Regions from separate parts of the Homo sapiens genome. Here region 1 is linked to region 2. Evidence: fine-mapped QTL for protein levels in blood plasma. A gene starts in region 2. The other region holds a variant in brackets. All regions are shown on one strand. Distances are from middle to middle.

What was found. PIP is the chance, under the fine-mapping model, that this variant and not a neighbour inherited with it causes the effect. Protein levels are from antibody-based Olink assays in UK Biobank. Linkage for the fine-mapping came from a reference panel and not from the study's own genotypes, which makes the PIPs less certain.
Region 1: its variant is fine-mapped to the plasma level of the HS6ST1 protein (UK Biobank, PIP 0.98). The variant lies in the coding sequence of HS6ST1. If it changes the protein, the assay may bind it differently, which can mimic a change of level.

The regions. Positions count from the first base shown.
Region 1 is chr2:128,255,377-128,269,499 of GRCh38, forward strand. HS6ST1 (heparan sulfate 6-O-sulfotransferase 1) reads right to left here. Exons shown (of 2, transcript NM_004807.3): 2 at 10,104-13,494. The coding sequence ends at 12,786. Among named protein-coding and RNA genes, the nearest start is that of HS6ST1, 56 kb to the right of the region's middle. RefSeq lists a silencer at 5,279-5,573 and enhancers at 5,471-6,041, 6,613-7,182, 7,197-7,698. The variant C/T (reference allele first, on the strand shown) is at 13,105.
Region 2 is chr2:128,311,899-128,326,799 of GRCh38, forward strand. It overlaps HS6ST1 (heparan sulfate 6-O-sulfotransferase 1), which reads right to left and starts at 6,970. Exons shown (of 2, transcript NM_004807.3): 1 at 6,139-6,970. The coding sequence starts at 6,665. RefSeq lists enhancers at 1-160, 4,828-4,977, 11,005-11,937 and silencers at 5,979-6,208, 6,903-7,312, 9,969-10,288, 10,329-10,538.

The DNA of each region.
Region 1 (14,123 bases), 57 kb before region 2:
GACAGGGGTTGCATGAGCCAAGATCATCCCACTGCACTCCAGCTTGCACTACAGAGCAAGACTCTGTTTCTCAAAAAACAAAAACAAACAAACAAACAAACAAACAAACTAGAACCAAATGGAAATTTCAGAACTGAAAACACAATGACTGAAGTAAAAATTTCAGCAGATGGTCTCAATAGCAAATGGAGGGGACAGAGGAAAGAACTAATGAACCGATGAACTGGAAGCCAGAACAAAAGGAATTACCCAATCTGAAAACAGAGATAAAAAGCAGATTTAAAAAAATGAGCAGAACCTTGTGGGCCTATAACAAGATCTTACATTAATGCCATCCAAATCCTGGAAGGAGAGAAGAAAGAGGGTGGAGCTGGCAAAGTATGCGATGAAATAATGGCTGAAAACTTGTCAAATTTGGCAAGAGACATAAACTTATGTATTCAAGAAGCTGAATGAATGCCCAACAGGATAAGTTCAGAGTAATCCACTCCAACATACATCATAATTAAATTCCTGAAAATGAAAGATAAAAAAAATCTTAATAAGTAGCCAGAGAAAACAATACATTACCCCTAGAGGAAGAAACAACTGAAATGACAGTGTATTTCTCATCAGAAACCATGGAAGCCAGGAGAAAGTGGCATAATTTTTTTTCAAGTGCTGAAAGAAAGGAATTGTCAACCCAAAATCTCATTACTACCCCCGCTCCCCAAATCTTTCAGGAATAAACCAAGACATTCTCAGATGAAGGAAAACCAAGAGAGGTGGTCACGAGCACACCTACCCTAAAAGAGTGGCTAAAGGAAAGTCTCTAAACATGAAAGGAAACAATAAAATAAGGAACCCTGAAACACCAGGAAGGAAGAAAGAACATGGTAAGCGGAAATATGGGTGACTACAATAGGCTTTTCTCTTCTTGAGTTTTCCAAATTGTATCTGATGGTTGAAGCAAAAATTGTAACATTGATGTGGTTCTAAGTGTATGGAGAAGAAGTATTTATTAAGACAATTATAAATGGGGGAGAAAAAAGGGATATAAAAAAGGGAGGTAAGGTTTCTATACTTTATGCAAACTGGTAAAATGATGACACTAGTAGACCGTGATAAATTCTGTATACTGATGTAATACTAGAGCACCCACTAAAAAAGCTATATCTAGAGATACACTCAAAAACACTACAGATAAATGAAAATAGAATTCTAAAGAATTGTTCAGCCAAACCACACCAAGGCAAGAAAAAGAAAATAGAAAAATGAAAAAAGAGAGGACAAACAGAAAACAAAATATGAAGTGTTAGACTTAAGCCCTACCTAACATGTCAATAATTATATTAAGTGTAAGCGGTGTAAATACACGAATTAAAAGACAAAAAAAAATGGATTAAAAAACATGCCCCAATTCTATGTTGCTTACAAGCAACTAACTTCAAATAAAACAATATAGGCTGGCCAGGTGTGGTAGCTTACACCTGTAATCACAGCACTTTGGGAGGCTGAGGCAGAAGGATTGCTTGAGGCCAGGGGTTTGAGACCAGCCTTGGCAATATGGTGAAACCCCATCTCTACAAAAAATGCAAAAATTAGCCAAGTGTAGCAGCATGTGCCTGTGGTCCCACGTACTTGGGAGGCTGAGGTGGGAGGCTGAGGTGGGAGGATCACTTGAGCCCTGGAGGTAGAGGCTGCAGTGAGCTATGATTGTGCCACTGCACTCCAGCCTGGGCGAGAAAACGAGACCATGTCTCAAAAAGCAAAAAACCAACCAAAGAAAACCAACCAACCAAACAAAAAAACCCCAAAACCAACAACAACAAAACAATATAGGCAAGTTGAGAGTAAAAGGATGAAAAATGATATATCATGTGAAGATTAATCAAAAGAAAGCAGGAGTGACAATATTAATATCAGAAGGCAAACTTCAGAGCAAAGACAATTACCAGACATAGTGTGGGACAGTATATAATGCTAAACTGGTCAAAATCCACCAGGAAGGCATTGTAATTTTAAATGTGTATGCACCAGACAAGACACTTACAAAATATGTGAAACAAAACTGAGAAAAGAGAAATAGATAAATCCACAATTATAGTTAGAATCTTTAATATTCCTCTCTCAAAAATTGATAGAACAGCTAGACAGAAATTGGCAAGGATATAGAAGAATTCAACAATGAACAGACTTAATTGGCATTTGTAAAACACTCCACACAACAACAGCAGTATATATACCTTCTTTCCAAGTGTCCATGGAATATATACCAAGACAGACCATAGACGGGGTGATAAATCTCAACAAGTTTAAAATAATTGAAATCATACAGAGCATGTTCTCTGACCACAATGGAATAAAACTAGAAATCAATAACGGAAAGATAACAGAAAAATCTCCCAACATTTGGGAACTAAACAATGTCATTCTAAGTATTCCATGAGTTAAAGAGGAAGCCTTAAAGTGAAATTTAAACACTGAACTAAGAATAAAAATGTAACATTAAAATTTATAGAAGGCAGCTTAAGCAGTGTTGAGAGGCAAATGTACGGCAAGAAATGTTTCCATTAGAGAAGAGGAAAAGATTCAAAACAAGAATCTAAACTCCCGGACCAGGCGCGGTGGCTTACGCCTGTAATCCCAGCACTTTGGGAGGCCAAGGTGGGTGGATCACCTGAGGTCAGGGGTTCAAGACCAGCCTGGCCAACATAGCCAAACTTTATCTCTACTAAAAATACCAAAAAAAAAAAAAAAATTACCTGGGCTTGGTAGTGCGCCTGTAATCCCAGCTACTTGGGAGGCTGAGGCACGAGAATTGCTTGAACCCAGGTGGTGGAGGCTGCAGAGAGCCAAGATCATGCCACAGCACTCCAGCCTGGGGGCAGACCAAGACTCCATCTGAAAAAAATAAAAATCTTAAATAAGAAATCCTGGGCAGTGATCTGATTGGTTCTGCTTGTGTCATGTGCCACAAGAAGGCCACAGGGTCGGCCGGGAGGCAGGGCCCTTTCCACCAAGGTGTCCCCCTCAGCATTGCTGGCTCAGTGGACGTCCCCTCACCCAGGCAGCGCTGTGTGCAGTGGGGCTGTGGCAGCTGGTCTTGGGGGCTCTTGTGAAAAGGGACAAAACAGATGTGTGGGGGAACAGAGATGTGTTCCCCAGGGGAACCAGGACTGGTGTCACCATTGCTCCATGATTAATCCAGCAACATGGTGTGGAACAGCTTAAAGCCCGTGTCCCTCGGCTCCCCTGACTTCATGGCACCTGGCCACCCAGGAGGTGCCAACCAGCCTGGTCCTCTGTCCATGTCCTAGGAGTGCTTGGACCTGACTGTGGGTGCCAGGTCCCTTCCTGTTTCGGGAGCTGGTAGCCTGAGGTAGTCCAGGCTTCTGCACTGAACTCACAGGCAGGCTTGTTCAAATTATGACTTTATTTTGAGACACATAACCACACAGGAAAGTCCAAAGAACAACATGTATCCTTAGTATGTATTTATGCTTTATTATATGTATTTATATTGTTAATATATACTATTGTTATATAAGATATATACACATTTATATAAGATTCAAATATTTATACATATTAATAGATTTATAAATTTATAAATTTTTATATATAAATGTACCTATCACTCAGAGGTGATGATTGTTCTTCTTGTCTTATTTTCTAATCAAAATATGTAAAGTGTTACAGATAAAGTTGATGTTCCCTTATTCCTCCAGCCTGAGAAGTCCCCATTTTGCAATTTTGAGAAAATTCCTGTCATGAATTTGTGTTTATCTTCCCTTCCATTTTGCTTTTGTTTTTATTTCCAGCTATTTATGTTTTGAATGGGTAATTCATGCATGTTTCATTGTCTTCATCTTTCCTTTCCTTTCTTTCTTTCTTTCTTTTTTTCTTTCTTTCTCTCTTTCTCTCTCTTTTCTTTTCCTTCTCCTCCCCCTCCCCTCCCGTTCTTTTCCCTTTCTTTCTTTTCTGTGAGACAGGGTCTCATTCTGTTGCCCAGGCTGGAATGAAGTGGCTTGATCTCGGCTCACGACAACCTCCAACTCCTCAGCTCAATTGATACTCCCGCCTCAGCCTCCCAAGCAGCTGGGATTACAGGCATGCAGCACCACTGCTGTCTAATCTTATTTTATTTTTTTGTAGAGACAAGGTCTTGCTATGTTGCCCAGATTGGTCTGGAACTCTTGACTTCAAGCAATCCTCCCGCCTCAGCCTCCCAAAGTGCAGGGATTATAGGTGTGAGCCACTGCATTCGGCCTCATTCACATGTTTCAAAAATCAAAAGGTACAAAAGGAAAAAGCGCCTTTCCCCTCTCTGGGCCTTTTAACACTTCCACATAAATGAAGCCAGGAACAGCAGCAGTGTCTTGAGTAGTTGGTGGAAAGAAGGTGTTGTTACATGGGCTGCAGCCTCCAGCTATGCTCTTTGCAGGAATTTGATCTTTAGTGGCCGGACCATTGTTAGCATTAGGTTCAGCTGAGAGTGACAGAAACCCCAAGCAACAGTGGCCTTAACAAGGTACACATTTCTTTCTTTCTTTCTTTTTTTTTTTTAGACGGAGTTTCACTCTGTTACCCAGCCTGGAGTGCAGTGGTGCAATCTCGGCTTACTGCAACCTCTGCCTCCTGAGTTCAAGCAATTCTCCTGCCTCAGCCTCCTGAGTAGCTGGGACTACAGGTGCCCACTACCACGCCCAGCTAATTTTTGTAGTTTTAGTAGAGACGGGGTTTTACCATATTGGTCAGGTTCTTAACTCCTGACCTCAGGTGATCCACCTGCCTTGGCCTCCCAAAGTGCTGGGATTACAGATGTGAGCCACTGCACCCGGCCAGAACACACTTATTTCTATTTTACATGGATAAAGTCTTAAGGTAGGCATCCCAAAGCTATTAGGGTGGTTCCACAATCATCAAGGACCTATCTTGTTGCTCGACCACCCTCACCACATGGCATCTACTTCATGGTCCAACATGGCTGCTTGAGCTCCAGCCATTACATCCTCATTGTAGCCATTCAGTAGGAGAAAGGGAGGAAGTTGCTTCTGTTTCAGGATTGTCTCCCAAAGCTGCAAGGAACATTTCCTCTTGCAAACTGTTGGCCACAGGGTGTAGTGACAGCACATGTCATTGTAAAGGGGGCTGGGAAGTGTAGTCTTGATTCTGGCTTGCTGTGTCACCGCTGATATGTAGTGGTTCTACTACTAAGGAAGGAGAGGAGAACAACTACCAAGGCACAGCTAGCAGGCTCTGCCACGATGCCTGAGTTTCAGATCTTCCAGGTAGAAAAACCCCTGCCCTCATGGAGTGCCCGCTGGAAAGGGACCGACTTCAGGCCACTTCCCGAGCGGCACTTCTCGGCAGATCCCAGAAGCAGCAGCCAGGCTGTGCAGGGCCGCTTCCTAAGCAAGGGCGTGAGTCACACAAGCGGCCTTTGTTAGCTCAGCCAGCTCTCCTGGAAGTCCTTCTCCCAGAGCCGAGGGCCCCTTCCAGCTCTTGCTGTGCCTGAGGCATCATCAGGCGGTGCTGCCCGGAGAGGACGCTGTGCAGCAGTGGGCCCACCCGCTCAGCCCTCACGAGCAACGTTGCCTGGTGCTCCCCGGGTTGGGACCCGGGCCTTCTCGGCTTCTGGGGCTGGGCGGGCACCGCAGGGAACAAAGAAGCATTCCTGAGCCTGAGCCACACGGCTCCAGGCTGACTCCCTGGAGTCTTGGAGAGGCTTGTCTTGAATGCCTGGCTTTTTGTTTGAGAAAGAAAAGTGTTTTCCAAAGTCCCCAGGCTTCCTCTTGCATAGAAATCACAGGGCTCCGAGGAGCCACAGAGCAGGGTGGGAGGACAGGGCAGTCAGGACGCCCTGTCGCAGGGGACAGTGAGAAGGTGCAAGGGGTGGGGAAGTCTCGGGGCACAGGTGAAAGGGAAGACACCCCACCTCAGCCCTCCATGGCTGTGGCCTCTGCTGGGACCGGGCGCTGGGAGATGGGCTGTGGCGCCCACCTGGAATCCTGCGAGGGGCGTCTGGCAGGCCTGGCTGGGTGCAGTGCAGTAGACACGGCAGTGGGCGCTCAGACACGGTTGGGGTGCGAGGGGGACCTGGGGCTGAGGTGGGGGCTCAGGGCAGGGCATCCATTAGAGGGGACAGACTGGGCCCCAGAAGGGGTCTCTGTGTCTCGCCCGAGCCAAGAGACTAGACTCTGAGTTCCTGCCGCCCTGGACACCCCTGCAGTGGAGCTGCTGAAGGCAGAAGCTGGCGGTCCTGGCGAGACCAATGATCCCTCTACAAGGTGGGGTGAGGGGGACCATGTGTGAGCGCCCTGTCCCTGCTAGGGGACGAGTGGCTTAACAGGATGTAAGTAGTTTCTTTAAAGAGGCCACGTTTTGGGCAAGTCTGGGCAGTGCTGAATGAATTCAGACCCTCCTCTGGGTCTGCCCCAGGAGCCCAAGTCCCCCCTGAAGCCCGAGGCCCGGGGCTGAGCTGGGAGTGTTGGTGCAGACAGAGCTGGAGGCCAGTGAAAGGCAGCAGGGAGCAGGGCCGGCAGGAGGGAGGCAGACAGGTGTCCTCTCAGCGTGGGGCTGGGAGCAGGATGGCAGGGCCGGGCAGGGCTGCATGGAAAACGGTCATGGCCCTTTGGGGGAAAGAAAGGGGAGAGAGAGGGACAGTGTGTGGGTGTGCCCACAGGAGAGGCTGGGCCCACATGGTTTTGCTGGGCAGCGGCAAGGCAGTGGGTGGGGCCAGGATTCCGTGCTTTCAACAAGCCCCCAGGTGGCTCATTTGTGGTCAGTGTTTTGTCCGCCTTTGTGGGCAGGTGTGGGGCCAGGCCTGGCTCCCCCGATGCAGCCAGATCCTCACAGCAGCCTTTCCATTTCTTTTTTTTATTTTTTTGAGACGAAGTCTGTTGCCAGGCTGGAGTGCAGTGACGTGATCTTGGCTCACTGCAACCTCCGCCTCCTGGGTTCAAGTGATCTCCTGCCTCAGCCTCCCGAGTAGCTGGTATGACAGGTGCCCGCCACCACTCCTGGCTAATTTTTAATATTTTTAGTAGAGGTGGGGTTTTGCCATGTTGGCCAGGCTGGTTTCGAACTCCTGGCCTCAGATGACCCGCCTGCCTCGGCCTCCCAAAGTGCTGATATTACAGGCGTGAGCCACCACACCTGGCCCAGCCTTCCCATTTCACAGAGAAGGAAATGGAGGCACAGGAGCAAACAGCAGCCAGTGGTCCACTTGGAACCCAAGACCTCATCTGACAAAGCGACTCCTGCAGGTTTCTCTGCTGCTGCTGCTACATGTCAGGGGACCCAGACCCAGGCTCTCCCCGCCAGGGGTGTCCTTGGAGCCCTGAGGTGAGGCCCTCCTAGGAAGGTGTCCTCATGTCATGAATACACTGTGTGCCCTCCGAGTCCTCCTAGGCTGGAAGCTCCCCGAGTCCAGGTGTACACTCCCGGGAGAGGACTTAGGGCTCCCACCTTTGCGAGGGTGGCCTGAGGATGGGTTCCTCTCTGTGCCACAATGAAGGGGACCAGGGGCCCCAAGCCAGGCACCTAGACCACGTCTAGGTAGGGTTAGTTGGGGCCCAGCTTCCCCAAGGAAGAGAACCCAGCGCTGTGTGCAAAGGTGCCCCCAGCTGAACAGGGTGTGAGGACTGATACTGGCCTGATGGCTTTGGCATGAAGCCCAAGGGGAGCAGTGGGGAGCAGGCCTAACAGGCCCATCCAGGGACAGGGCCGTGGCTGGCCATGGCTGGAGCAACTGGTGTGAAGACAGAACGCCGGGGCAGGAGGGATGAGGCATATGGCGCTGGCCACGAGGCTGGGTGGTAGAGGAGCTGCCTTTGTCCAAACCCACAGGCCCGGGAGCAAGGGCAGATGTGGGTTTCCCTGGCAGGATAGAAGGGGGCAGGGGACCTCGGAGGATCGGGTGAGCCTGACGCTCACAGTGGGGACTCTGTGGCAGTGGGCAGGAAGTGGGGATGAGAGCTGGGCAGGGGGCAGGCCTGAGCCTCCTGAGTCTTTGGCTCAGGTGGACTTCATTCATTTATTTATTTATTGAGACAGAGACTTGCTCTGTTGCCCAGGCTGGAGTACAATGGCATGATCTCCGCTCACTGCAACCTCTGCCACCTGGGTTCAAGCGATTCTCCTGCCTCAGCCTCTCCAGTAGCTAGGATTACAGGCGCATGCCACCACGCCCGACTATATATTTTTGGTTAGAGACAGGGTTTTACCATGTTGGCCAGGCTGGTCTCGAACTCCTGACCTCAAGTGATCTGCCTGCCTCGGCCTCCCAAAGTGCTGGGATTACAGGCGTGAGCCACCGCACCTGGCCTCAGGTGGACTTTAATAAAGTGGCCTTCGGCCAGGTAACAGAACAAGACTCTGTCTTTAAAAACAAAAAAAGGTGGCCTTCAACTCTAAAGAGAAGCAGGAAGAGGAAAACCCCCATTCTGGGTGAGGTATTTTCAGGTCTGATTTCACCTTTGATCATGACACTGGCCCTACAGAGTCCAGTGGTACTATCAGAAGGTGGAGGAAGCTTCCATCTTGGCTCCCCCGAGGGAGAAGCCAGGCTGAGGGCTGGTCCACACCCCAAATAAACCTCCGCATGAAGTGTCCAGGAAGGACTCGGGAGTTCCTCTTGGCGTCTGGCCTCTGCTCCTCCCTTCCGCACTCTACCTAGGCATGAGCAGGTGTTGACGTGGAGTCTGAGACTGGGGTTTTAAGAAGGCAGCTACGTTCTGACTCCTGCCCTACTTGTGCCGTGACCCTCCCAGAAACACCTTGATGACCTTTGTCACTGGGATGGTGGCAGGTAGAAGCCGTGACCCTCCCAGAAACACCCTGGTGACCTTTGTCACTGGGATGGTGGCAGGTATGAGCTGGCAGGTGACCACTATGGCTGGGTTTCCCCAGGGGCTGAGTGGGGAGGCTGGACTTCCCTCATCTGGGGAACAGAGCCACAGGACACCTGGGCTGATGGAAGGTGCCTCACCCGAGGGCCTTCCTACCCAATTTCACCGAATCTGACCACTAGGAAACTGACATCTGTAGTTTTTTTTCTTTTTTTTCTTTTTTTTTTTTTTAGGAATCTTGCTCTGTTGCCCAGGCTGGAGTGCAGTGGCGCAATCTCAGCTCACTGCAAGCTCTGCCTCCCGGGTTCATGCCATTCTCCTGCCTCAGCCTCCTGAGTAGCTGAGGCTACAGGTGCCCGCCACCAAGCCCGGCTAATTTTTTGTATTTTTAGTAGAGACGGGGTTTCACCGCGTTAGCCAGGATGGTCTCGATCTCCTGACCTCGTGATCCGCCCGCCTCAGCCTCCCCAAGTGCTGGGATTACAGGTGTGAGCCACCACGCCCGGCCAACATCAGCAGACCTTTTAAGACAACTGGTCTCTACTAGTCAAATATGTCAATCCTAAGAAAGACGGAAAAAAGAAGGGGTAGCTGGGACCCTCTCCTCCATTCAAGGAGACAGGAGAGGCACATGGGGCACCGTGTGGTCCTGGGGCTACAAAATGCTCTGAAGACATCTCTAGGACAACCAGAAGATCTGGATATTGGAAAATACTGTATTGTTATAAAATCTGGGGGGGGGGCTGGGATAACAGGGTTGAGTTTTGTGGCAGAACGTCCTTAGGAGACACGAGCTGATGGATTTAGGAGTGCAGTATTCTGATGATCACAACCTACTTTCAGATGTTTCAGAAAAGCGCGCGTGTGTGCGTGTATGAGAAAGTGTGGGCACAGGATAAGAGAAGGTGAAAAATTTAGGCCAAGAGCATGTGGGTGTCCATGAACTATTCCTCCACTCTCTTTGTCATTTGAAATCTTTCAAAATTTCCAAAGACAGGGAGGGAAGAGGTTAATGAGAATGTAACTCAGTGGCACCTGCCTCCCTCTCAACTGGTGTCATCTTCCCAAATACTATCACTAATGATTAATAAACGGTTACTCTTTATGGTGATGACAAAGTCCCATTTTTTCTTTCAGAATGCCTTACTTAATGGGACTTTCCTCACTGAGCCTCCTGCACCTGTGCAAAGCACCCCGCCCTTGGGACGTGGTGTGAGACCCCACTGGGAGGGGCAGCTATGCCCGCAGAGACCACAGCACACCCGCCACTCCTTGTCAGGGTTTATTTCATCAGCTAACATTCATTCTCGACCTAGACAAAAACAATTAGATGATTATGACTTGCTTTTCCATCATCAACTCATTTTTTTGTATGAATAACCAAAAAATTTCTTCAACACTTTTTTTTAAGAAGAAGCTATAAATAAATAAAGCTTTAAACAATCCTGGGTTCAAGTTAAACAGTTCCAGTTCCCGAAAAGTTCACAGCCTTGTTTTGTGGGCAGTTCTGCTGTTCCTGGCTTCCCCTTCCAGGAGGGGACGTTTGCAGGTCTGGGGGTCCTGGTGACTAAGCTGTTAGCTCCACTCCCTGCCTGTTTCCGTCCTCACAGCCCTGGGAGGGCCCCGGTGGACAGAGTCCTTACAATTTAGGAGATGCTGCTGGCAAAGGAACTGTTGACCCAAAGCAGGTGGCCTGAATGGGAAGTGCCAGGCTGGACACTTGGGGGCTGAGGGCACTGCCAGCTGCCGCCGCCTCTGGACACCTCAGCCCGGCGCTGGCCCGAGAGGAGACTGCTTTCCAAATGCAGCGAAGAGACTGAGACAAGACCCGTGCTTCCGTGTGAGTTGGGATGCGGGGCATAAGTTAACACATATTCCAATATGTACAAAACAACCTGCGCTCAGGCCCGCGCACCCAGGAAGCCCATGGTGAAGGTGAGGTCACCTTGAGCCAGGCCTCTGGCTGGGTGTCCACCTCCTGCCGGGAAGCCAAGGTGCCCCACGTGGCTTGTGCAAGACCTCACAATCCCCTGAACGTGTTCCTCCTCCTCCAAGGAGTGCACCCACCCCCATGTTGAGTGTCCGAGCAGATTCCCATTGACCCTGACCTCCCTTTGAAAGAACCACACCACTAAATCCCCTTGGCACTCACTTCCTTAGTGTGATGCATCCACCCAGGGAGGTGGCCCTGCGCGGCGCTGGCACGCTGTCCACCCTGCCCTGTTGACCATCCTGTCCTTGGACCCCAAAGTAAAATGGGGCCAGTGTAGGAGACCTGAGGGTGGGGCCCTTATGCCAGACCTCCAGGGGTAGCGACCTCACCTGACCCCAGCTTCGGCTTCCTGTGCTGCAGAAGGCGCTTGCTCCCAAGCCCGTGGTGACCCACGTCTCCACCCCATGGTGTGGCAACTGTGGTGGCTGAGTGGAAGCTGGGGCAGGAGAGAGGACCCCCACCAACCCCAGCCAGGTGGCCTGCAGAGCCCACTGCCCTACCTCTGAGTCAGCCTGCGGCCTGAGCACACCAATCTACTCTCTGGGGGATCCAGGGTGCCTGTGTGGGCCCTCCTAGAGACACCAGCTTGGCCTCCTAGGGCATAAGGAATGGGGACAGGGCACAGGGCACGTGCTTACAACGGATATGCAACATGGCTTTTGGTAGGGCCATTGCAGCCAGTGGGGAAACCTGCGCGGCTGCTGGGAACAGAGCATGGCCAGCCTTTTGCCAGGGGGTGGGGAGCATGGGGAAATGCAAGGAGAGCCAGGGTGGGGAGGGCTGAGTGTCTGTTGTCAGGGAGGCCACCTACAGCTGTTTTGCCAAGGCTAGTTGAGAATCTGAAAGCTCGAGTCCCAGTTCCTGGCCATACAGAGCCACTGTGGTCCGAGGGTACGGCTCCTGGGCAGGGGCTATGGTCCCATGCTCCAGCCGATGGAAGCCTGATGAACTTAATCCGTACGCTGGTGGGAGCAGTGGTATTTGAGCTCTTGAGTATGTGTTTCGGTGATGGGGCTGGGGCAGCCTGCTAGCAAATCCCAGTGGGTCAGAAAGGAGAACAGAGGCAGGGGAGCCCTCGGTCCCCAGCCCTTCCAGTCTGAGCCAGGCCTGCCTGGATGGTCACCTCCAAGGGCCAGCCGCGGACTCACGCACAAGTGGCAGCATCCCTGGCCAAAGCCTCCCCACTCCTGGGCTGCCAGTTGGCCCGAGGAAGGCCGGCAATGCAGCTCGGGCCTACTACCCAAACCCCTCCTTGGTCTGAGGACTGTAGGGAGTGGGTGGGGCCTGAACATCAGCTTTGGCCTCCTGACCCAAAGCATGAAGCAGGACCATGGGCCAGAGAGGGGAGCAGGCTTCCTGGGGGCTGGACTCGAGTCTTCTCTGCCTCAGATGGGGTGGGCCCTGACTTTGAGGGAGCTACAGATGGGTGAGCTGGGGGCTCCCCAGGCCTCGGGGCATTGGGGGCAGCCAGAAGAGGAGGGGCTATGGGATGGCCTGGAGCTGGGGCAGTTGCCAGAAGCTGGTCTCACTCCTAGTAGCCCGGACAGAGGAGCTAAGAGCGAGTGCTGTGTGCATAGTTGGTGAGGGACACACTCCCGGCCTGGCAGGTCCACTTTCCGCTGTCCTCGTCTCTTGCGCAAACCTTCAGTTTTTGCGATAAATCCAAGGAGGCCAGGAGAGCAGCTCCAGGCACAACACCTGCTCTGGAGGCCCTGCCCTGACCATGGCATCCTTCGAGCACGCTTTCCTCTGACCCACTGGGCTGCACCTGTTGATTTCTCAAGCCCCCATCCCTGCCCAGCCCCACTACATCCCTGCTCTGTTTTTTTTCAGGACGCAGCTACCTCTGTGGAGCAGGTTTGGGATGCTCATCCCTTGACAGTCTTGGGTGGACCTGTCGTCTGTCCTGTTTTATCCCCCACACCCCCCAAGAGGCCTCCCCGTGGCCACCACCGCCACTACCACTTCTCAATGATGTGGCTCATGTAGTCCTCGGTGGGCACGCGGCCCGGCTCGTCGGCATCCTCCCGCGGCAGTGCCTCCTTGGCCCGGTGCAGCAGACGCTCCTCGCGGCTCCTCAGGCGCTGCTCCCTGCGCTCCAGCTGCCGCTTGTACTGGTAGCGCTGCTGGAAGAGGTCCTTGGCGTAGTCGTACAGCTGCATGTCCAGGTCGTTGAGCTCCTCGATGCGCCGGATGGTGTCTTCATCCACCTCCACGCCGCCCGCCCGCGTGCTATTGTACTGCATGAAGGGCCGGATGAACTTGAGGTTGAACGTC[C/T]GCTCGAACAGGTACTGCGTCTTGCGCTGGAACTCGGTCAGGCCGAAGAAGGCCATGCCCCGCAGGTTCTTCTTGGCGCTCTCGAGCAGCAGCTGGGCCCGCTTGCCCTCGGGGATGAAGGACAGGTTGTAGCAGCCCACCAGGCTCAGGTCGGCCAGCATGCGCACCTGGCGGTTGTTGGCCAGGTTGTACGGGCAGTCCATGAACTCCTGTAGCGTGCAGCCCGACCAGTCCGTGCCCTCGTAGCAGGGCGGCAGCTCCTCAGGCGTGGGCGTGCGCCCATCACACATATGCAACGACGTCTTCCACGTGGCACCCCTCTGCACATGCCGCCACTCGCTCAGGTAGCGGGACACGGGGTCTCGTAGCAGGGTGATGTAGTAGAACTTCCTGCAAGGAGACGGGGAGAGGAGGTGAGGGCTGTGACGCAGCATGAGGGGGGCTACCAGGGCTGCTCTGAGTCAAAGTCCCCACTACAGGAGTTTGGGCTTCGCCTCTAATGCCAACCAACTCCTGCACTTAGCTCTCAGTCGTTTCAAAACCCGGTATCAGAGATGCCAAGGAGCATGCCACGGTCACATGGCTACCCAGGATGACCACCACAGTGCCCTGCAGCGCCTGGCCTGGCTCCTCTGGAGGGACAACCTGACTTTTTCCTGCTGGTGGGTGGAGCCACCAATACCGCATCCAGAGAAGTCGCAGAGCCACAGCCGCCTGAGGCCAGCAGTCTTCACCAGCTGTTTACAGCCTGGGCATGGTGCCACCCAAAGAGCCACTCAGCAGGAACAGAAGGTGGGCAGGGGCCAGCGAGGGTCACCTCCAGTCCCAGTCCCAGGGTCCTGCCAAGGCCTGGTGGTGGTTGGGGGGGGGGTGCCCAGCGGACCAGCCAGCCCAGGACCCCAGAGGAAGCCATGACGTATACACCAACTCTACTTGCTGGGTTGTCCCCCAAGACACCAACGCATTGCACAGTATGTAACGGTGCGTGCACAAGGGAGAAACGACCCAAGGAAGACTCC
Region 2 (14,901 bases):
GGGTGGCCACACTGCGCCAGGAGCCAAGCACCGCCATGGGCAGTCTCTGCTGCCAGGGGCCGACTCTCAGGCAGCCTTGCCAGCACTACCTTTGCAGAGCCCAGAGCCCAGGCATGATGCCTGTCCTTCTGCTCTGAGTGAAGGCTGCCAGGTGTCTTCCAGTAAACGCAACGACACAGGCCTACATGTGAAACTGCCCATGTCTGCCCAGGTCTCAGAAGCCCTAGTGTTCTACATCTGGCTGGTCTGGGCCAGCGGCAATCGCCCCCACCTGCAGACAGCCTTCCATGCGCATGCAGGGGTTGCTGGGAGCAGAGGGCTGGGTGCGGCATACAGCCTTCAGGACAGACAGACAGATGTCCACATGCTAGCTCCTGGCCCTCCAGGCTGAGGGACTGACACATTCTCCACCTTCTCTGGGGCCTGACTTCCTTGTGTGGAAAATGGGGCTGCTCTTCATATACTTGTCTTGGGGGAGTGTTGGGTCCAAACAAGATGACCCATTCCAAGTGCCTGCTAAGTGTGCAGGGGACAAGAGTCACCCTGCCAGCCTCTCTACATGCCCCCATGGCTTGTCACGCCTGTTCCTCATAGAGGCGGAATTCAGTCCCGCAAAATGCCACATGGGATGGTGATGGGCACCCAGAGAGGGTGCACCCCAGGCCCCTGGGAGCTGCACCCCTCTCTCAGCAGGGGTGAAACTCAGCCACCTGTGAGCAGGTGGCGACATGTGGGTGACTGGGCATGGCTGCTCCCAAGTGCCCTACATAGATGGGCCACCCCAAGGGTGTACTCATTGGGCAAGGCTTTGCAATAAAAACCATAAGATTAGCACTTTTCGGTGATTTAAGAGAATAAATTTAAAAAAAAATTCACAATAGGCTGGTGCGGTGGCTCACACCTGTCATCCCAGCACTTTGGCAGGCGAAGTCGGGCAGATCACCTGAGGTCCCGAGTTCGAGACTAGCCTGGCCAACATGGTGAAACCCCGTCTTTACTAAAAATATAAAAAAAATTAGCCAAGTGTAGTGACGGGCACCTGTAATCCCAGCTACGTGGGAGGCTGAGGTCGGACAATCGCTTGAAACTGGTAGGCAGAGGTTGCAGTGAGCTGAGATCGTGCCATCATTGTCCAGACTGCACCGGACAGAGTGAGACTCCATCTCAAAAAAAAAATTCACATGCTATTCAGTACCAATGAGTGTGCCACTGACATGGGTGCTCACAGACCACAGGTGGGAGCATACCAGGAGTGGGTGTTCTGAAGAGGAAGGTAACATTTGTACCAAGAGCAGTAAAGACATTCAGACTATTCAACTCAGAAATTCCACTCCTAGGAATCTCCAGAGGAAATCAGAGCTATGCAGAACATTTACACACAAGGAGCAGTCCTGCAGCAGTCCCCACAGAGTACAGAATGAGCAACCTGCGCACTCACCCACTGCCAACCAGCGGTGGCACACTCAGAGCGGAGCAGCTGCAGCCACTCAAATATTAAGTTTTTAATGACAACAGACAACATTTATGGTGAAATTTATATGATGGCTTCAATTACAGTGGAAAAACCATGCATGGGGAATGGATGATTTTCCTTTTCTCCCTCTGCCTCATACTTTCCTCCCACTCATCTACCAAACAATCATTATAACCACAACAAAGCGGGGTGTGAGAGCAAAAGCCTCCAACTCCCCGAAGGACGACAAGACCAGGCCCCTTCTCCTCCTCCCTCCTGGGCCCTGGAGGATGCCAGACCCAAGGTGGCCACTCCCCCGTGTGGCAGCCAGAACTCCTGCTGAGAAAGAAACCTGGATTCCCTGGCCCTAGGGACCAAGGTGGGCACTGCACTCTCTGGGACTGGGCTCTCTGATCCAGGAGCAGGAGTCCCCAGGCCCCAGTTTTATGCGTGAAGTGCCTAGGACAGGAAGCTGTGGCTTGAAGACCACCAGAGCAGCATGGCAGAAATGATCCCCCAAGCTAGAGGACCATCTAAAACGATCCTGTCACCCAACCATTCGTAAGTTTGCCTTATCATGTGTTTGCTTAAAAAAAAAAAAAAAGGATTTTTTATCTATTTTTAGTGAAAATCTAGGAGCATCTTGACCACAGATTCCCTTCTCATCTTAACCAAAGGCCTCTCTAGGCAATGTAGGCACAGTGACACCCCCAGCCTGGTCCCCAGGTCCTGTTCATTGGCCCCAGTCACATGCTCTGGGTAACATCTGTCCCCATCACAGCAGATGAGGGTTTCTCCCTTGATCTCAAAGAAGAAAGCGATTATGAAGGTAAGGTGGAAACTGTCGCATGCCACAGAAACGAAGGCTCTCATCCAAGCCCACCCCTACCTGGTCTGCCCCACCAAGGAGTCCCCAGGTTCTCAGGGAACACCATGACACTCAAGACTGACTCCGTGAACCTGAGTCACAGGGAAAGGGCAGGGACAGAGCCCAGATCCTGCAGAGTCCAGGAAAAAAAAATTCCCATGGTGCCAGCATGAGGGCAGTGCCAAGGTGGCACGGTGTCAGATGGGACAGCAGTCGAGGCGCCTAAGGCAACAGGGGAGCCTAGGAACAGAAAGCCAGGGAAGATTTCCTGGAGGAAGGGGCATCTGAGCAGACTGAAGGGAGGGGAGGAGCAGGCAGAAAAGTGGGAGAGGAGAGCAGGCACACCAGGTGGACGGCACACAGGTCCAGCACCAGGCGGATTTCTGGAGTCTGAGAAGGCTTCAGGATCACGGAGGGCAGGTCAAAGGCGAGGCTGCGGGCTCCTGCGCCATCCCTCCAGCAAGGAAGCACTGGTCTCTGCAGGGCAACGTCACAGAGGCTGCGAGCCCACTAAGGGCTCCAGAGAGGCCCTGGTGCAGAGAGGATGTGAGCTGGTCCCGGGTTCCCGGCCAAGGTGGCCCAGATGCCACACTTGGGCTCCAGATGCCCTCCGTGGCCCCAAATGAAGCCCACATGATTTCAGGGACATTTCCAGGGTGGCCCGGGCAAGACCTTGACCATGCCTGTTCTTGCGTTGCCTTCAGGCAGACGGGAAGAGGAAGGAGGGAGGTTCTGGCTCTGGAGCACCATCTGGACCCTCTGAGTGACAGCGGAGTGTGGGGTGCTGAGACATTCTAACCGAGTGGTCCCTGGAATGGCTGGCCATTTGGCTGCTGCCTGGGGATGGCCACACCTCTTTAAGGCCAGCCAGCAAACGTCCTTCCAGTGGAGTCTTACAAGCACCCTGGCTGATGTCGGCAGATGAGGCAGCCCCCATGGTGAACACAGGACTAAACAGGGACCCGCCAATGCTCTGCTCACTCTTGTTCCTTTCTACCAAGGCAGCCAAGCACTAACAGCCACTAGAAGTTCCAAACCATATTCCAGGAAGACATCAAAAACCTGTCCATCTCCATGGATGCCCAGCTCAGAGCAGCCCAGGCTGATACTGTGCAATGGGGAGGCTGGCAGCCGGGAAGAGCCCCACCTCTCTTACGCGCACCACAGGCCCACTGAGACCCTCCCAAACCGCAGCAGGGAATGGGAGGGGCTTGGTGGAGAGGTTCCAGGAGCCAGCCTTGGGCAGGGAGGCAGGCAGAGATAGAAGGAAAAGAGGGTCTCAGTCCCCAGAGAACACGGAGATGGCAGTGCAGAGCCAGAGTGAAGACATCGCAGGAGGGCCAGGGTGACACCTGAGTCTCCTGACACCAAGCCCACTTAACATGAGGCACCCCAGCAGGGATGGGCACTGCCCCTGATAGAGAGTTGCTGGGTCCCTGGGCAGATGGGGGAAGTGCATCCCAACCGCCACAGCAGAGCAGCTTAGCCCAGCTCCAGCCTGGGCCAGAAGACTCAGGTGGCGGGGCAGCGCTCAGCAGGTGGACCTCAGTGCAGCTTGGCCCTGCGAGCACAAAGGCAAGATTACCTTGGCCTCCTGATGAAGCTCATTAAAAAAGCAATCTACCTAGTGCCTGCAACAGAACTGAAGGGAGTGGAGGCGGAGAAGAGGGACTCGGAGGGTGGGGTGCTGTCACCTGCCCGGTAGCACAACCCACTTCCAGAGTGGGTGGCAGAGGGGGCCTCCTGACGGCCCTGGAAGCCCCTCCCAACCCTGGCGCATGCTGCTGAGCTAGCAATTTCCAGGCTGGCAGCCCACCTCCGCCAGAGGCATCTGCGTTTTCCATTCTTGCTCCACACATGCTCCCTGGGCAGGGGGAGCCGGGCCTTCCTGGTGTAGCACCTGGGGCCCCATCGGCCCCACCTGGTCCTCCCACTCTCATGGACAAACTCCAGAGAAAGGAGGCCAAGGCTCTTCACCCTGGGGACCCACAGGCGTGCGGGGCTGCAGGAAGAGCATCCTGGTTGCAATCTAGGGCTGAGGTGGCCTCTGCTGAGCAGGCTTGTTTCAAAAGCTCCGGCTTCTTGGCGGCCCGAAGCTTCCACGCAATCCTCTTAGGCTGCCGAGCTAAGTCCCTCTGGCAAAGGGGGTGACCCCCATCCTTGCACCCCCCACAGGTAGGGAGGCGTCTGTTGGTATTGGTCAGTGACCAACTCTGGGAGCCTACTGCTCTGACTGGTGGAAGGGTGGGTGGGGGCATGGCTGTGGTCCCAGGCACAGCTGAGCCTAGCACAGAGAAGCTGGACCAGGGTTAGGGGGGCCCTGCAGCAGGAACGTGCATCTGTGCAGAGCAGACTAAGTGCTGGGCCGGAAGCAATCCTTCAGGGGCCCTAGACAGGCAGCTCTGTGACCGCCAAGTGTAGAATGTGGCTGTAAGAGGCTCAGAACATCACCTCCCAGGCTGGGAGCTGCAGTGTGTGTGTGTGTGTGGGTGTGTGTGTGTACAGTTGGGGGAGGGGGGAGAAAGAAAAGTGGGAAGATGCCCCTCCAACTCTAGGACCCCAATTTCCTGACAGCCTGAGAAAGACCACAGAGCAAGGATTGAGGTCTGTGCAGGGGAGCAGTGTCTCGGACTCTGCTCAGCTCCAGGCTGGCTGGACCTTCCAGGCTCCCCAGGCACACCTGAGAGCCTACAGCCTCTGGACCCAAGAGTGCCAGCCAACACGCCTACAACCGCCCAGCCTCCTACCACCAGCCTGTCTGCAAATTCAGTCCTAAGGCAAATTTGGAAGAGAAACAAAAGGCAGACAAGAAGCCCTGCTCCTGGCCCTTCCCAGCCCAGACTTTGGGGAGAAAGGCCCCGCAGGGCATCCCTGCAGGACGAATGGGCACCAACAGGAACAGGAGGAAAATAACCCCAACTTTAACTGCTGGAAACCCAGCAGCACCCCAGGTTCCCCTACAAACGGCTTCCCAGAAGAGCTGCCCCGGCACCCCTCCCATGCTCTGTGTCCTCACGCAGCTCAGCTCTGACATGGGGCTGGGGGACCCCAGAGAAGGGGTGTGGCAGCACAGGTTCCCTGGACCAGCTCAACTACCCCCAACCTGGCTGGTAGCTTCCTGGGGAAGGTGGTCCCCCATCGGGTGGCTTTTGTTCCTCTCTCCAGGCAAGCCTGTGCCTGGAAGAATTCGGCTGGCAGGCCCCACTGGGAGGACAGGCGGTACTGCCTCCTCCCCGCCCCCAGCCCCAGGTCAACAGGGCCTTTGTTCTACCTGCACACACCGGCAGGCAGGCGGGCAGAGCCAGCCCCCTTCCCTGGCAGCTCCCCCACCCTCTGAAGGCAGGCACTCCAGGCACAGGGGCGGCACCTCACTACTCTCACTTCCACTTTTGGGACCACAGCACCGAAGCGGCACGGGGAAGCCAACACTCCAGGTAGGCCACGCACACACCCAGAAGCCCGCGTCCCCAAGTCCGGCGGGCCAGACCTCACGGCGCACAGCAGGTAAGGTGGCCCGAGGGCAGCGGGCGGGGACCCTGGAGAAAACCCGGGCGCTGCGCAGTCAAGCCGGCAGTAGGGCAGCACAAGGCAAGGAAGAGAGTGAGAGCGAGGTCAGAAAGCGCGGTGACAGCCGGCTCACCCAGAGGAGCTGGGAGCCTCGGGCGCTCGGCAGGTCGGGAGGGGTGCCGGCGAGTGGGGGCCCCCAAGAGGGCAGAAGGGGGTAGGGAAGGCAGGGCCGACCCAGTACAGCACGGCGGGCATACGGCCCGGCCTCGGGGGCGCAGCTGCGCGAGGATCCCGCCGCCCGGGCGCTCACCTGGGCGTGCGCAGCGCGGCGGAGTCGCGGCGGTCCAGCACGCCGGGCACGCAGTTGGTGAGCTCGGTCCAGTCGGCGTGCAGCCCGCAGCTCCAGCCGGTGGAGAAGCGGGAGAAGAGCCAAGTCTCGCGGCGGTTGGGCCGGTAGCAGGTGCACTTCTTCTGGCCGGGCCGGCAGTCGCACGGCACCTCGAGGCGTACGTTCTGCACGAGGTGGCGGCCGAAGGTGGTGCCGCCCGTCTTCTGGATGTGCAGGAAGACGATCACGTCGTCGCCCTTCATGTCGAAGCGCAGCGAGCGCTCCAGCTCGCGGACCGGGAAGTAGTACTTCTTCTCGTAGTGGGGGTCGGGTGTGGGGAACAGGTCCAGGTCGTCGGGCGGCGCGCGGCCGCCGGGCGCGCCCAGGCTCAGTCCTGGGCCCGCGTACTGGTACAAGATGAGCATGAAGCACACCGAGCCCGCCACCACCAGCACGAACTTGCTGGCGCGCTCAACCATGGTCCTGCCGCCGGCGCGCCGCCGCCGCATGTGTCACCATCGCCGGGGCCCGGGCGCGGGGCGCGGGGCCTGGGAGGGCAGGAGGCGCGGGCGCAGCTGCCTCCGCCGCCGCCCGCGCTCCGGCCCGGCCCGGCTACTCGGCGCCCAGGCCGCCCGCAGCGGCGCGGGCCCCGACCCTCCGCGGTGCCATGGCTGCTCCCCGCCCGGCCCCGGCTCCCCGGGCCCGACGCCCGACTCCGCTCCCGCTCGGCCCCGCTCCCGGCCCCGGCCAGCACAGCGCTCTCCGCGCCCCCAGCACCAGCCCGCTCCGCTCCACTCCGCGCCGAGAACGCTCTGCGCCGCCCCGCGCGCCGCCGCGTCTCCGCAGTCCGCCGCCGCCGCCCCGCCCCGGTCCGCCCCTGGCCCGCCCCCGTGGCGTCTCTTGCCGTCGCCGCCCGCGCCGATCCTCGGCCCCGCCTCCGGAGTGCCGGGGTTCGCCGCGGGTGCTGGGCGCGGGACCTGGGTCTGCTGCGGTGGCGAGGCCGCTAGCAGGCGGGCAGCCAGCGACTGGGAAGTGATTCCGCCCTCAGGGGAGTGGGGGACCAACCGGCAGTGCGGAGCCGAGGCGTGGGAGGCTCTCCTGGCGGGGGCCGCGGTGAGGGGGCGCGGCGGCTGGCGCTTCTGGAGCCTGGGTCCGTACCCCCTCCTCCCCAAGTCCCAGCCGCCCACGTCCCCGCAGCCCGCGCGGGAGGAAAGGCCTTGACCTTGCACGCTGGGGCGCTGAAGTTAGACGCTAGCCTACTGGGCTGCACTTCCAGGGACCAGGGCGGCGGGGGCCGCCCACCACCAGGACCGAGAGGGAAAGCGAGGCTTTCCTTTCCTGCTCGACCCCCTCACCCCTGCGGCTGGCTTTGGGACAGTGCCCCGCAGCCCCGCATTGAAGAGATGTTGGGCTGTCTGCAGAGGCCTGCGGAGCGGCTTTATGGCTTCCTCCTTGTTTGAAAAGAATATCAGACGAGGTGCATTTTCCCCCATCCATGTTTATTATACTCCAATGAAAGAGTTATAAAACATTGAGCCAATTCTTAAGAATCGTGAGTGCCCACCAAATATTCTGTCTTTCGTGGGTTGGTTGGAGAGTCCAGCGGCCCGGGCCCAACCTGGCTGCGGAGGGCTCGCTCCACGTTGGCTCGTGTGTGGGCCGGGTGGTGCGGGCTCCTCACTCGCCGCCGCCCAGCCTGGCAAGCACGCGCGGCATTCGTGGGGCGGGGGGTCCCGCCAGGTGCCCACTCACACTGCTTGGGCTCTGGCAGTACTCGGAGGCTGCAGCCCGTCGGAAGCGCAGGAGTGGGGCTGGGACCTGCCAGGATCTCACAGCTGCAGGGCCGGCCGCGGTGGGCCCTAGTGTGTTGGTTCAGGCCAGCGAGGGCTCTGGGAGCGAGTCTGGCTGCCAGGCGTGGGCTCCCAGTGTCCACGTCAAGCCCTGCCGGGGACGGGGTGGGGGGGGAGGCGGGGTGGTGCCCTGCCTTCCGTTCTGTTAGGGACCGGAAGCGATCATGGGGTGTCAATTATGCCTCAGTAAAGCTGTTAAACGTAGACAACATCACACCAGAAAGCCCTCCTGGAAGCAAACCCAGAGAGCTGGAAAAACCAACACCCCAAACCCAGCTGAGCGGGCGGCATGCATTTTCCAAAGGGACCGCAAGAATATCCGCTGTGGACAGGCGGGTGCAGAACCCTCAACACAGCCCAGCGCACCCTGGAGTCCATGGTGTGGGGTCCTCAGTGGGACCTAGGGCCCCAAAGCCCCTGCTCATCTTGTAGGCTGCTTTAAAACTGTCCCTGGCCCGAGGGTCCTGGGGGCAGCTTGGACAAGCTTCTCCAGAAGTGACTCATTCCTATAGGAGTGGGGGTGCAGTCCCCATGGGACACAGGTGGGGCCGCCCTGCAGTGTGCTTGGACCTGCCTGCAGCCCCTTGACGCAGTCTGTGCCTGAGCCCTGGGGAGCCTTCCTGTGTGGCCTAGGGGAGCACAGCTGCCCCGGGTCCACCCCCCAGATGTCCTTACCCAGATAAGGATCCTCGTGCTACATCATAATTAAGGCTGCTCTTTTGGAGACCTGCTGGGTGCCAGGCATTGTAGAGGTGTCATTTCCAATTCCATCAGCAAATCTGCGGGGGTAGGCTGTGATATCCATTTACAGAAGAGAAAACTGAGGTTCAAAGGGGTTAAGACCCTGGTTCCAAGGTCAACCACTCTCACCCCATGAGAGTCAGCAGAGCTGGGATCCTGATTCCTGCTGTGAGCCCCAGAACCCTCCCCTTCCCCACCTCTGCACTTGCCCCAGCTCCCTAGGCCAGGGATGAGAGCGTCTACAGGGGCCACTCCTGAGAGCCTGGTGACCGTCACTGCCACCAAGGGGGAACGTGGGCCCAGAGTGTTCAAGGGAAAGCTGGAGCAGCTCCGAAGGCCAACGAAGCCATCGGTACTTGGGCCATGGCTCCACCCTGTGATGATCTCACTGTCCCAAGGGGGAAACTGAGGCCCAGGCAGGGACGAAGTGCCTGTGATAAGGTCCCACCCTTGAATGGGAGCCAGAGCAGCCTGACCCATGGAGCAACATCTCCCAGAACAAGCTATTTAATCCAACTTCATACCTGCCACACTGGCTGATGGGAAGCACTCACATTAGCCAGGAAGCCCTTTCTTTCTAGAATTCTTTTAAGAGGAGGGAAATCTGCCTGGCTGGCTACAGGACTTTGCTCAGTCTTCCACTTTGATTGAAGCCCTGCACAGGCACCTGAGACCCTAAGGCTGTAGGTGAGTTTCTGGGCTCTGAAAGTCAAGTCAGATGAGCCACCCATCAATCAGTGGACACTTGAGCCGAGTGGAAGGCAGCTCGAGCCCTCGTTGGCGGGGCAGCTTGCATCACGCTACTCCCCACCACTTCCCGCTACTCCCCGCGATGAGTCCTCAGTGTCATGTCTTGGAAAATGGATAGAAACGCACAGTCTGGGGCTGGCGTGGGGTTCCAGGAGGTCAGCGGACACAGCCAGGGTCTCAGGAGGCGCGCTCTGCGCGCTGTTTCCTTTCTTCCCTGGGTGATCTCCTGCGTGGCCAAGGTTTGCCCCAGCCCCGAGAGTGCATATGAGCTAAGTGTTTGCTAGGGGCAGCTTCTGGCCCTGACTGCTTGTGGGGTCCAAGGAAAAGCACTGGCAGCTCTTCTGCTCAGTGGCTTTGTCCCCTGAAGATCCACTTCACCAATTCTTTAATGCGTGATCTCTGACTTAATGGCAAAGAAAAGTAAAAGAACACGGCTTAGTGGCAGGCTGTGATGATCCCAGAAGAGGCATTAACATTCGGCTTCAGGAATGAAGCCTCATTCCCGGCCCACCGTGCGGTCTCAGAGTCTGAGAACCACGAGATCAACAGCGGCGCCCCCTCCCGGCGCACAGTCCCGCGGACGGCCGCGCGGGGGCAGCACGCGGCCCGGCCCCCGAGCGCCCGCGGTTGACTTTGCAAAAAATTGGGGGATTTTCCACACTCGCTTCCCTCGTCGTTCGTCCGGCGGCCGCCCATTGTTGTTTGCCAAGGGGTGGAGGAGGGCAGTCGTGTCTGTCCTCAGAGCCTCCCGTGGGGCTGGCCCCGCTGCCCACGCGGGGCAGAGAGAGGGGTTTCGTTTGGGGACAAACTTTTAGAGGGGACTCCGGCTCGCGCGGACCCGCGGGGCCCGGCCCCGGCCCCGACCCCGACCCGGCGGCAGGCTTGGGGCGCCGGGCTGCGCGCCGTGGACGCCACCTTCTCCGAGGTCGCCAGGCCCCGTCCGCAGCCGCCTCCTCCAGGGAGCCCGCGGCCCCTTTGCCGCCCAGCGGCCCCGTGCCGGGCTCCTCCCCCAGCACCGCGGGGCGCCTGGGCTCCCAGGCAGCCCGCAGACGCGGCAGGTCTTCCCAGGACCCGAGGGACGCGCTCCGGCCGCTGCCCGGGGACAGCAGGGGTCCTGCGGTTCGGTTCGAGGACCGCGCTGGAAGAGGCCCGGGGCTTCGGAAGGGCCATTCCCCTCCCTCCACGCCCGCCCAGGGCCTCGCTGTTCTTTGTGCCCTTTCTCTAGGCCCTCCAGGCCCGCTTCAGTCCTTAGGGGAAGAGGGTAGGATAAACAGAAGAGGAGAACCTGAGCAATTCGTAGGGGCAGCGTGGTCCTGGGCTTCCCCGGCCCTTGCCCGCCCCCCCCGCCCTGCTGGCTCGGTGACCTCCCCCTGGCTGGCCCCCTGCCCTCGCGTGTGACGTGGGGTTGTTGGCAAGTGGGGGGCTTGGACTGCTGCCTGGCCGGGATTCGGAGTCTGTCCAGTGGAGCCCACCCTCCTCCCCGGGCAGCGGGACTGTGGGCAGGCCTGGCGGGTTCTGCCAGCTTGGGAGGCAGGACAGGGACCTGGTAACGTTGCCCCAAGGGCATCGTCCTGGTTCTTCTGCTTGAAACTTCCCAAGGGACATGTCTTTAGACGACTAGGGTGGAGGCGGGATCACAGCCTGGATGGGGTGGGGGGTGACTGCTCGCAGCTTCCGGTGGCCAGTGGGTCTCCTCCCAGATGGCTGTCATTCACTGCCCAGAGGGGTTCCGACTCGGCCGGGTCGGGGGAGCCACCAGAGAGGGCACTGAGCAGCTTGACAAGCTCCACTGTTGGGGATGTTCCCTGGGGGTGGGGTGGGGTGGATGGCGGCTCTTTTGAGGGTGAAATGTTCTAGTCCGAGAAAAGTCACTCAACCATGGGGTGCTTGCTGCTCCCACCCCAGCTGCCTAAGCCACCAGGGGCCGGGGCACAGGTGGAAGAAGGTGGCCTCAGTCCTGGGCCCTGATGCCTAGAAGGGCATGGTCAGTGCCCTCCAGGCAGCCTTGCCTGATCGTTGGGGCTCGGGACCAGCTCCCACTCTGCTCCACTCTCTGCTGGCTGGACTGGCCACCCCTCTGTCTGTGGAATTCACTTGGTGCCAGTGCCCTTCCTGGAGGATGATGGCCGGCCCCCATGCTCCTCGTCACCAGGTCCTGCTCTTTTTACCTCCATTCATCGCCACTGCTATTAAAGAGTCGCCCTCTTGCTAGATTACAGTTGGCTTGACAAGTCAGTTGACTGTTCTGATGGAAGCTTCTTCTTGGGCAGGGCCCCAGGGCCTTGGTGGGACCCGGGCCCTGGGTGGGGGCACAGAGGTGGGACACAATGATGGCTTTATGGAGCAGGCCCTGCCCGCCCCTGTGGCACTGTGGGGAGGGGGCTCACCTGTCCCTAGGCCAGGGCTCAGCACGGCAGCGGTAAACCTGGCTGGCCTTGACACTTCCTGGAATCTCTCAGTGACCACGTTTCTTTTTGCACCAAATAGCTATGGTTCTTGCTGTTCGTTTCTCTCCCTGCCCTCCTTTAAGAAGGAGAGTTCGTGGGAATTAGACACTCAGGGTTGGGGGAGGGTAACCTTGGCTCCTGGTGGGAGGAGTCTGCGTCCTTCTCTGGGCCCAGGGCCTATGGGGCAGCAACAGCATCTCCTCTATTCTCAGAGCATCCAGGGACAGGGTCACACCATGGGTGTGTGGTACACCAGGTCGTCCACCTGGCTGAAGGCCTGGGCTGGTGACAAGTGCTGTGGTGCTGTTCAGGCCAGCAGAAAAGAGGGAGGCACATTTCTGTCAGCAGACGGGATGGGGTATGGCTCACACCTGCTGGGCTGGAGGCTGTGCTCCACCCAGGGCCTCAGGCTGTGTCTTTGACAACAATAATCACCCTATGGGCAAGGTCTGCGTGCTGAGCCCTTGTCAGTCACATCTCTTATAATCCAACAGCAGCTCTGTGGGCCTCTCCTTACAGATGGGGAGGCTGAGCCCCAGGGACATGAGGCCACTTGCCAAGGTCACAGAGCCAGTGGGTGCTCAGCTGAGGCCGCGAGGCTGGGAGAGGCACCCCTCAGGTAAGGGGGCTGGAGAAGGGAGTCCACACCAATGCCACCCACGTCTATACCGTCGTGACTGCCATGCAGTCTTGACCAGCCTTGGGCCGGGTGAGGGCCTCCTGGTACGTGTTTTGCCCTTGACTTTGGCTTTTGGGTGACTGGGGTTGGGACACTCCTCCTACCCTCAGGCTGGTCCCTGGAGGGACCACCTGGGCTGGGGGCCAAGGAGGAAGGTCTCAGCCTCAGTTGTAGGAAAACAAAGTTAAACATTATCATTAGGAGTAAAGGTGCTATGTTCACACCCCAGCTCTGTCTAACCAGCTGTGTGGCCTTCACCAAGTTACTTAACCTCTCTGAGCCTTGGTTTCCTCATCTGTAAAGTGAGGATAATAATGGGACCTACTTCATAGGGTCATGGTAAGCAATAAGCAAGCAAACGCTTATTCCACAGCCCTGTCTACGCCAAGGGCTAGGTATTCCTACTGTCGATTTGTGGGAAGCACCCTATCAGCATCCGCATATTCAAAACCAGCTACTCGGCTTCTCCTGTGTGCCAGGCCCTCCTGTGCGCTGGCCTCCTCTGTGCATGATTGTATTCAGTGCTCTCGGCTGCCCTATGGGCATAATTCCCTCATTTCTCAGGTCAGGGAGCTGAGGCTGAGCAGAGGATAGTGACTTGGCCAAGGGGACAGTGTCCCCTCCCTGGTGAGAGCCTTGGTTGAGGGTCCTCTCCACCTTCCCATTTCCCGACTCCCAGCCCTTGGAGAAACCCAAGTCCTGGGCTCCTGGGCAGAGCCTAGCCCCCAGCCCCCAGCCCGGCCTGGACCACGTCCTCCTGCCGGGTGGGGTTGTAAGGTGCCCTGCTGCTGGGCTGTTCCTCCTGTCCTAGGGTCTTGACGCGCTTACCTTCCTCTTCCATCTTTCCACGCCCTCCTTTGACTCTATCTCTGGTGCCATTTCCAGGGTTTGTAGCTGAGCTTAGAAGAGGGGAGCTGGAGAAATGGGTCTATACCTCCTTGTCCAGACCAGAACTCAATCATAGCTTTTTCTTTTTATCTGCTCCCATCTTCTTGAGAGCCCATCCCACTGTGTGGCAGAGAAAACCTGTATTACTTCCATCCTGTAATCCCAGTCTGATCCAATAATTGTTAGGCTCTATTTGATTTCTTGACTTTTGTTTACGAAGAGTTTAAATTCACACAGAAGTAGAGAGGGTAGCACAGTGAGCCAATTCCTGCCCTTACCCGGAGTCTCCGGCTTCCACGGCTGGCAGCACGTGCCTGTCCCTGCTGCAGCCTGCCCTCTCCAGCGGAGCACCAAAAGCCAACCCAGGACAACACAGGCTTTCCCTGCTAGTGCTGCCCTCTGCTTTCTAGCTTCAGGTCACCCTCGGGCCCTGTCTCAAGGCTGCTTGGTCCCTACTCACACACCCCAAGAGAATGTGTGGTCTTCCGAGATCTGAATTCTTTGGGAGTCCCAGAGGGCCCCAAAGCAAGAGCAAAGGGCGAGGTTCATAGGCAGCGGCTGGCCCCGGTGTGAGCTGGCCACTGTCCAGCTAGGGAGGCTGATGGAGCCTGCTTGGCGTGCCATGGGCACAGGCACCAGGCCTGCAGCTGGCAGGACTCTGGGCCTTACCACAACCCCCAGACCTGGCTGTCATGGGAAAAGCCCAGCCCCGGTGGGCCATGGGGGGGCCAGCCTGCCCCTGCCCATACCTCAGTCAAGCTCTGCATCCCCATTTGAGGCATAAGAAGCCTCTGGGCTCTATTTCTGCCACAGAGAAACCCAGGAAGGACAAACTCAGCCCCTCTGCTCCACCGTGTCTATCCTGCTGGGCCTGCCCTGCAGAGCAGCCTATACCCAGAGGCTCCTAAGGGCAGACAGAGCCCCTCACAGACACCTCTGTATTCCAGGACATCTACTCCTATCTTGAAATATTAAGAGATAAAAGATTTACAAAATCCTCATCTCAACAAAGTCTGCCTTTCAAGCCCGTGGGCCAGGTGCAAACTCAGAAAGCCTGGTTTTGGAATTCTAAAGCCGAGTTTTCATTCTTGAGAGTCCAGGCCGCCTGAGGCAAAAAGATGCCTCCTGCAGAAGAGGGAGGTGGCAGGACCAGGAGATGCAAATGAGATGGGTGTATTCACATATTTCAAACAATGTGATCAAGTTGTACAGAACTGAACACACACACACCAATGAGAGCAGGCAGAACTGGGGAAATCTGAACAAGGTTGCTGCTGTCCCCGTGTTATAGCCTGCTTGAAATACTGTGCTGTATTTCCACAGGATGTTAGCCACTTGCCACTGGGGGAGACTGGTGAAGGAACTCAACTGCGTGCAAACCCACAGTTAT